2 separate regions of the Homo sapiens genome follow, and region 2 is linked to region 1. Evidence: fine-mapped expression QTL. Tissue or cell type: whole blood. Region 1 holds a variant in brackets; the other region holds the start of a gene. All regions are shown on one strand. Distances are from middle to middle.

What was found. PIP is the estimated chance that this variant, and not a neighbour inherited with it, causes the effect.
Region 2: SFI1 starts here. The variant in region 1 is fine-mapped to the expression of SFI1 in whole blood (TOPMed, PIP above 0.99).

Annotation. Positions count from the first base shown.
Region 1 is chr22:31,608,183-31,610,933 of GRCh38, forward strand. The region is part of intron 22 of SFI1 (SFI1 centrin binding protein); the gene reads left to right. Among named protein-coding and RNA genes, the nearest start is that of MIR7109, 12 kb to the right of the region's middle. RefSeq lists an enhancer at 1,936-2,582. The variant C/T (reference allele first, on the strand shown) is at 1,426.
Region 2 is chr22:31,495,462-31,497,961 of GRCh38, forward strand. SFI1 (SFI1 centrin binding protein) reads left to right here and starts at 1,075. Exons shown (of 33, transcript NM_001007467.3): 1 at 1,075-1,176. RefSeq lists silencers at 917-1,136, 2,037-2,096 and an enhancer at 1,157-1,426.

The DNA.
Region 1 (2,751 bases):
CAAACAACACAAAATTGCCCTCTCAGTTCTGGAGGCTGGCAGTCAGCGATCAAGGTGTGGCAGGGCCATGCTTCTCCACAGGCTCTAGGGGAGGGTCCTTCCTTGCCTCTCCCAGCTTGTTTCTTGCTTGTCATGGCTTTCCTGGACGTGTAGACCCATTGCTCCAGTCTTTGCCCCATCTTGACATATCGTTCCCTTCCTGTGTCTGGGTCCCTTAGAAGGACTCTGGTCATATCGGATGAAGGGCCCACCCTACTTGAGTGTGACACCATCCTAACCAATTACATCTGCAGTGAGCCTAGTGCCAGATAAAAGTCACATTGTGAGGTTCCAGGAAGGACATGAATACGGCAGGTGTGGAGGGGGCACTGTTCAGTCCAGTATATCTTAGAAATCTATTCCCAACTGACTGCCAACCAGTTTATGTTAAAATGGAAGGCTAGAGCTTGAGATCTACAGAGAAATAAAGAAAAGAAGCTGGAATGGAGGAGCTTGGGGTGGTTGGGGAGGGGGTTGTTTTGATGGGAAAGTCCTTGCTGCTTGTCAGGGCAGCCCCCACCGTGTTAGCGTCCTGCTTCCTTGTGTAGCTGGGCCCTTAAATGTTTAGGGGCCAGAGACTTTCTAATTCGATCTCAGGAAGTCCTGCTGCCTGCTGTATATACATCTTTGGAAAGATTGCAGGGCACAGTGGTACACACCTATAGTCCCAGCTACTTGGGAGCCTGAGGTGGGAGGATCACTTGAGCCCAAGAGCTGGAGGCTGCAATGAACTATGATCACACCACTGCACTCCAGCTTGGGTGACAGAATGAGACCCAGTCTCTCTCTTTTTTGAGACAGAGTCTCACTCTGTCTCCCAGGCTGGAGTGCAGTGGTGCGATCTCGGCTCACTGCAACCTCCACCTCTTGGGGTTCAAGCGAATCTCCTGCCTCAGCCTCCAGAGTAGCGGGGACTACAGGTGTGTGCCACCACGCCAGGCTAATTTTTTGTATTCTTAGTAGAGACAGGATTTCACCGTGTTAGCTGGGATGGTCTCGATCTCCTCACCTCGTGATCCGTCCGTCTCGGCCTCCCAAAGTGCTGGGATTACAGGCGTGAGCCACTACACCTGGCCAAGACCTAGTCTCTTTTAAAAAATCTTTGGAAAGATAGTCTAGAACAGGAGTCCATGCCCCTGCTTGCAAGATGCACAGACACGCGGCAGACCCATGGGGAGCTGTCTCCTAACACAGCTAGGGGTCCCATAGTAGGAGAATCTGACACGCTGAAGGGGACAGCTCATTTTTAGAATAAATGAAAATACAAATAAAAGTGAAAACATTTAGAAATTGTTTAAATTGGCCCATAGAGAAATTGACCAAGTGGTTAAGTTGGTTTAATAGAGTTTGCTCCAGGACAAAACTGAATCAGCTTTGGTTTGGTTC[C/T]GACTGTAGCGTGTGTGTTAATGAGCATGTTTCAACACACATCCTGGGGACAAAACCCTGGGGTCAGCCATCCCACACGGCTGCATTACTGCGCCACGAATGTGCTGCTGGGTCCTGGAGCTTCTCCTCAGCTCAGAAACCAGCACTGTGTTTCTAGTTTACGAAGAAAGAAGCCGAGGGCTTTAGCCAGACCTTGGGCTCTGGAGCTTCTGCACCTGACCCTTTGGGCACCTGACCGTGCAGCTTCAAGCTCCAGAGGCTTTTGGCCAGTTTGGGTCAGCTGCCTTAAGGGTCAGGTGCCCACTCCTGGCCATGGTGGGAAGTTAGAGGCGACGGGTTTGAGTGTTGCCGGAAGCCGCTGCTCTCTGAAGGACTTTCCTTAGAGGGAGGCGGTGGCAGGCTTGGGTTGCCACGTCCATTACAGATGGTATGAGAGGCTTGGGAGACTGGGCTGCAAGACAGTGTACACGTAGTAGGTACACAGTAAATACCTGGGGAACAATTGACTGGCTTGTATTAAGGCCTCAGTGTCTCAGGCACACCTTGGCAGGCCAAGGGTGGGACTGGGAGGAGGGACTGAGGGGAGGATGTCACAAGACCCATTATGCAGAGTGCTGAAGAAGTACAGGCTGGCGGTCATAACCTGGCTGTGTGTGTGACCTCCAGCAGGCCCCCTCTCTGAGTCTCAATGTCTTCATCTGTAAGATGGGGATAACAGTGCCTACCTCTTGGGGTTGTCGTGGAGATCAAGTGAGATGACAGGTAGAGAGATACACACTTAGGACAGAGCCCAGGCATCAGCATGCAGCACTAATGTGGGTGCCTCCCACTTGTGATCTGCCGCCTTCCCTGCCTGCCTCAGTGGGCCTGGAGGGCTCCTCATCTTGGCATCTGTGCCCTGCTCTCAACCCTGTTCTGTTGTCTCAAAAAGAAAGTTCTCTCAGGGCCTAAGAAGGATTCACCAAAGGGAGAATCTGGTGACACAAAAACAAAATGCAGGATGTGGCCCATTCCTGCAGAACCCAGGGAGCCAGAGGGCATGGCCTGGCGACCAGCGCTGTCCTCCCCATCCGTGGCTTGGGCTGCTCTGACTGCTGTGACTGGGCCTTGGTTTCCACCCTGGCAAAACAGGCTGCCCTCTCTTCCAAGCTGCAGCTGAAGTGGGGGCTCCTCCTCCTCCCCCCTCAGACTGAGGGTCTTCTTCCACGTGCCCAGCAGCATTTTGCACGTGACTCTTAGGGTGCCCCTGGCACCCCTGTGGAGGCTGTGGACAGGCTTGTGGCTCTCAGAGGGCTGTTGGGGAGCACAACAGTAAACAGATCTGGT
Region 2 (2,500 bases), 110 kb before region 1:
CTGGCCAACATGGTAAAAACCGTCTCTATCAAAAAAACAAAAAAAAATTAGCCGGGCGTGGTGGCGTGCGCCTGGGAGGCTGAGGCAGGAGAAACACTTGAACCCGGGAGGTGGAGGTGGAAGTGAGCCCAGATCACGCCACTGCACTGCAGCCTGGGCTACAGAGGGAGACTCCTTCTCAAAAAATAAATAATAAATGTTTTAATTGCAAAAATTAGCATGTAGAAAATAGGGCAAAAATACAAATTGTCTGTGATGCTAAGCCCGAGACACCCAACAAGTTAATTTTCCTGTTTTTAGCGTAAAATCTTTCAAATAAATAACTACTGCTTTTAGTCTCTGCACCAGGAATCTCACGTGCTTTCAAATGTTTTACAAAGCACGTAAAAAAGTATTTGAAAAGTCCCACTTACCCCTCCCACTCCTATTTTTAAGATTATTAGGATCGGCCCAAATTTAAAAATTTAACAAAAAGAGTGCTTATTAATTACATTTTAAAATGAAGGGTTACAAAAAGAGATGAGCCTGGCATTTCTAATTCGGGGGCCTTGGGACCTCTCCCCTCCAAGTGCAAGTTGTAGCAACCTGCCGGGTCCACGCATGGGCGGGTCATACTCCACGGGTTCCGGTTTCCACTCCCTGTGAACCAAAAGCCAGAGAGGCCCACGCACGAGTCCGGAAGTGAGGGAGGGAGGACTTTCGTACGCAGCCGCCTCCCAGCTGGAACCTCATCTTTAGTGCTCGGCCGCGGGCGGCGTAACTCGGGGTTCCGCCTCGGAATACCTCCCACTTCTCTTGTCTAAGAGGAGCAGTAGCAAGCTGAGCTCAGAGCGAAGCTGGCGAGCCAAGGAGATAAAGAACCCTCGGTGGGGATGCCCAGAGGGTGCATGCTCCACGCCCCTCGAAACCGATTCTCATTGCTGCTGCTGCAAAGCAACCCGAAGTGCGCCACCTACCCGACTGAGGCTGCGCAAGCCCCGGGGTCTGGGCGGGGTGGTCCTCGTGCGCGCCGCGTCGCCGTGGAGACGAGGGCGGGCCCGCGCGAGACTGGCGTCTAGAGGCGCGCGAAGCGCTGAGGCGGGCGTGGACCGCGCGGGAGTTAAGAAGCAGGTCCCGGATCGCCGTATACCGCCGGGTTTTCTCCCAACGTCAGGCCCGATGGCTCGGCTTCCCCAGGTACGAGGCCCGGCCCTAACGTCCCCACCCTCTTCTGGGCTCGGCCTTTCCGGCAGTGAGCCCGGCAAGGACCTCAGTCGGGTTCCTCCGAGCCCGGTGAAATCTGTCCGAGCCTCCGCTTCCTCCCCTGAAAGTGCAGGTGATGTTGTCTACCTGCGGGTCTGTGGTGCGGGAATGGAGGAAGTGCGACAAGAGGGCGCAGGACGGGGCCCGGAGCCTGCCATCCTCTCCCGCCGCGTCTTCTCGGCTTCTTGTCTTCCGCCCTGGGGGCACCGCATCCTCCCAGGCGTCTAGTGCGCTCCTGGCCGGTGCTCGAGTCCACGCAATGCCCCTTAGCGTGCGCGGATCCAAATCAGGGGTTTCCTCCTCCCGGCTCCGTGGCCCAGGAGCGGAAGGGCTGGTATATGGGCGACCTTACTCCCACTGAGCCCGCAGGGAGTAACGCAGTAAACAAACCTGGAAGCCTTCCCCGCGTGGGAGGTGGGTACCTGTTTTTATGGGAGGCTGTTCAGGTTTCTTAACTGCTGTGTAGATGTGTTGTAAATATTTGTTGAATGAATGATGTGAGGGACTTGAGTACAGCCATACCTCGCTTTATTGCACTTCACAGATACCGTGTTTTTTACAAATTGAAAGTTTGTAGCAAGCAGCCCTGCACCGAGCAACTATTTTTTCAACAGCATGTGCCCACTTCCTGTCACTTACACTTTGGTAACTATCGCTATATTTCAAACTTTTTATTTCAGGTGCACCGTTACAGTGATCTGTGATCAGTGATCTTTGATGTTGTTATTGCAATTGTTTTAGGTGGCCACGAACCTCACTGGTATAAGACAGCAAACTTAAGTGTTGTGTCTGACTGCTCCACTACCTGCCAGTTCCCTGTTTCTCTCCTCCCTCTCGGTCCTCCTTGTAGCCTGAGAGGCAACAATATTGAAATTAGGCCAATTAATAGCCCCACAGTGGCCCCTAAGTGTTCAGTGAAAGGAAGAGTTCCATGTCTCTCACTTTATATCAAAAGCTAGAAATGACGAAGCTAGAAATGACGAAGCTAGAAATGCCTATGCTCTGTAAATGCAACAACAAACCCAGGATGACCACACATCTCTTTACTGAATGTCTTTACATCATATTTACAGTGTGGTTTACTGAATATTTTAAGCCTACTATCGAGACCTACTGTTCAGAAAAAAGGATTCCTTTCAAGATATTACTGGTCATTAACAAGGCACCTGGTCACCAAGGAACTCTGATGAAGATGTACAAAGAGATTAATGTTACTTTACATGTCTGCTAACACAGTATGCATTCTATAGCCCATGGT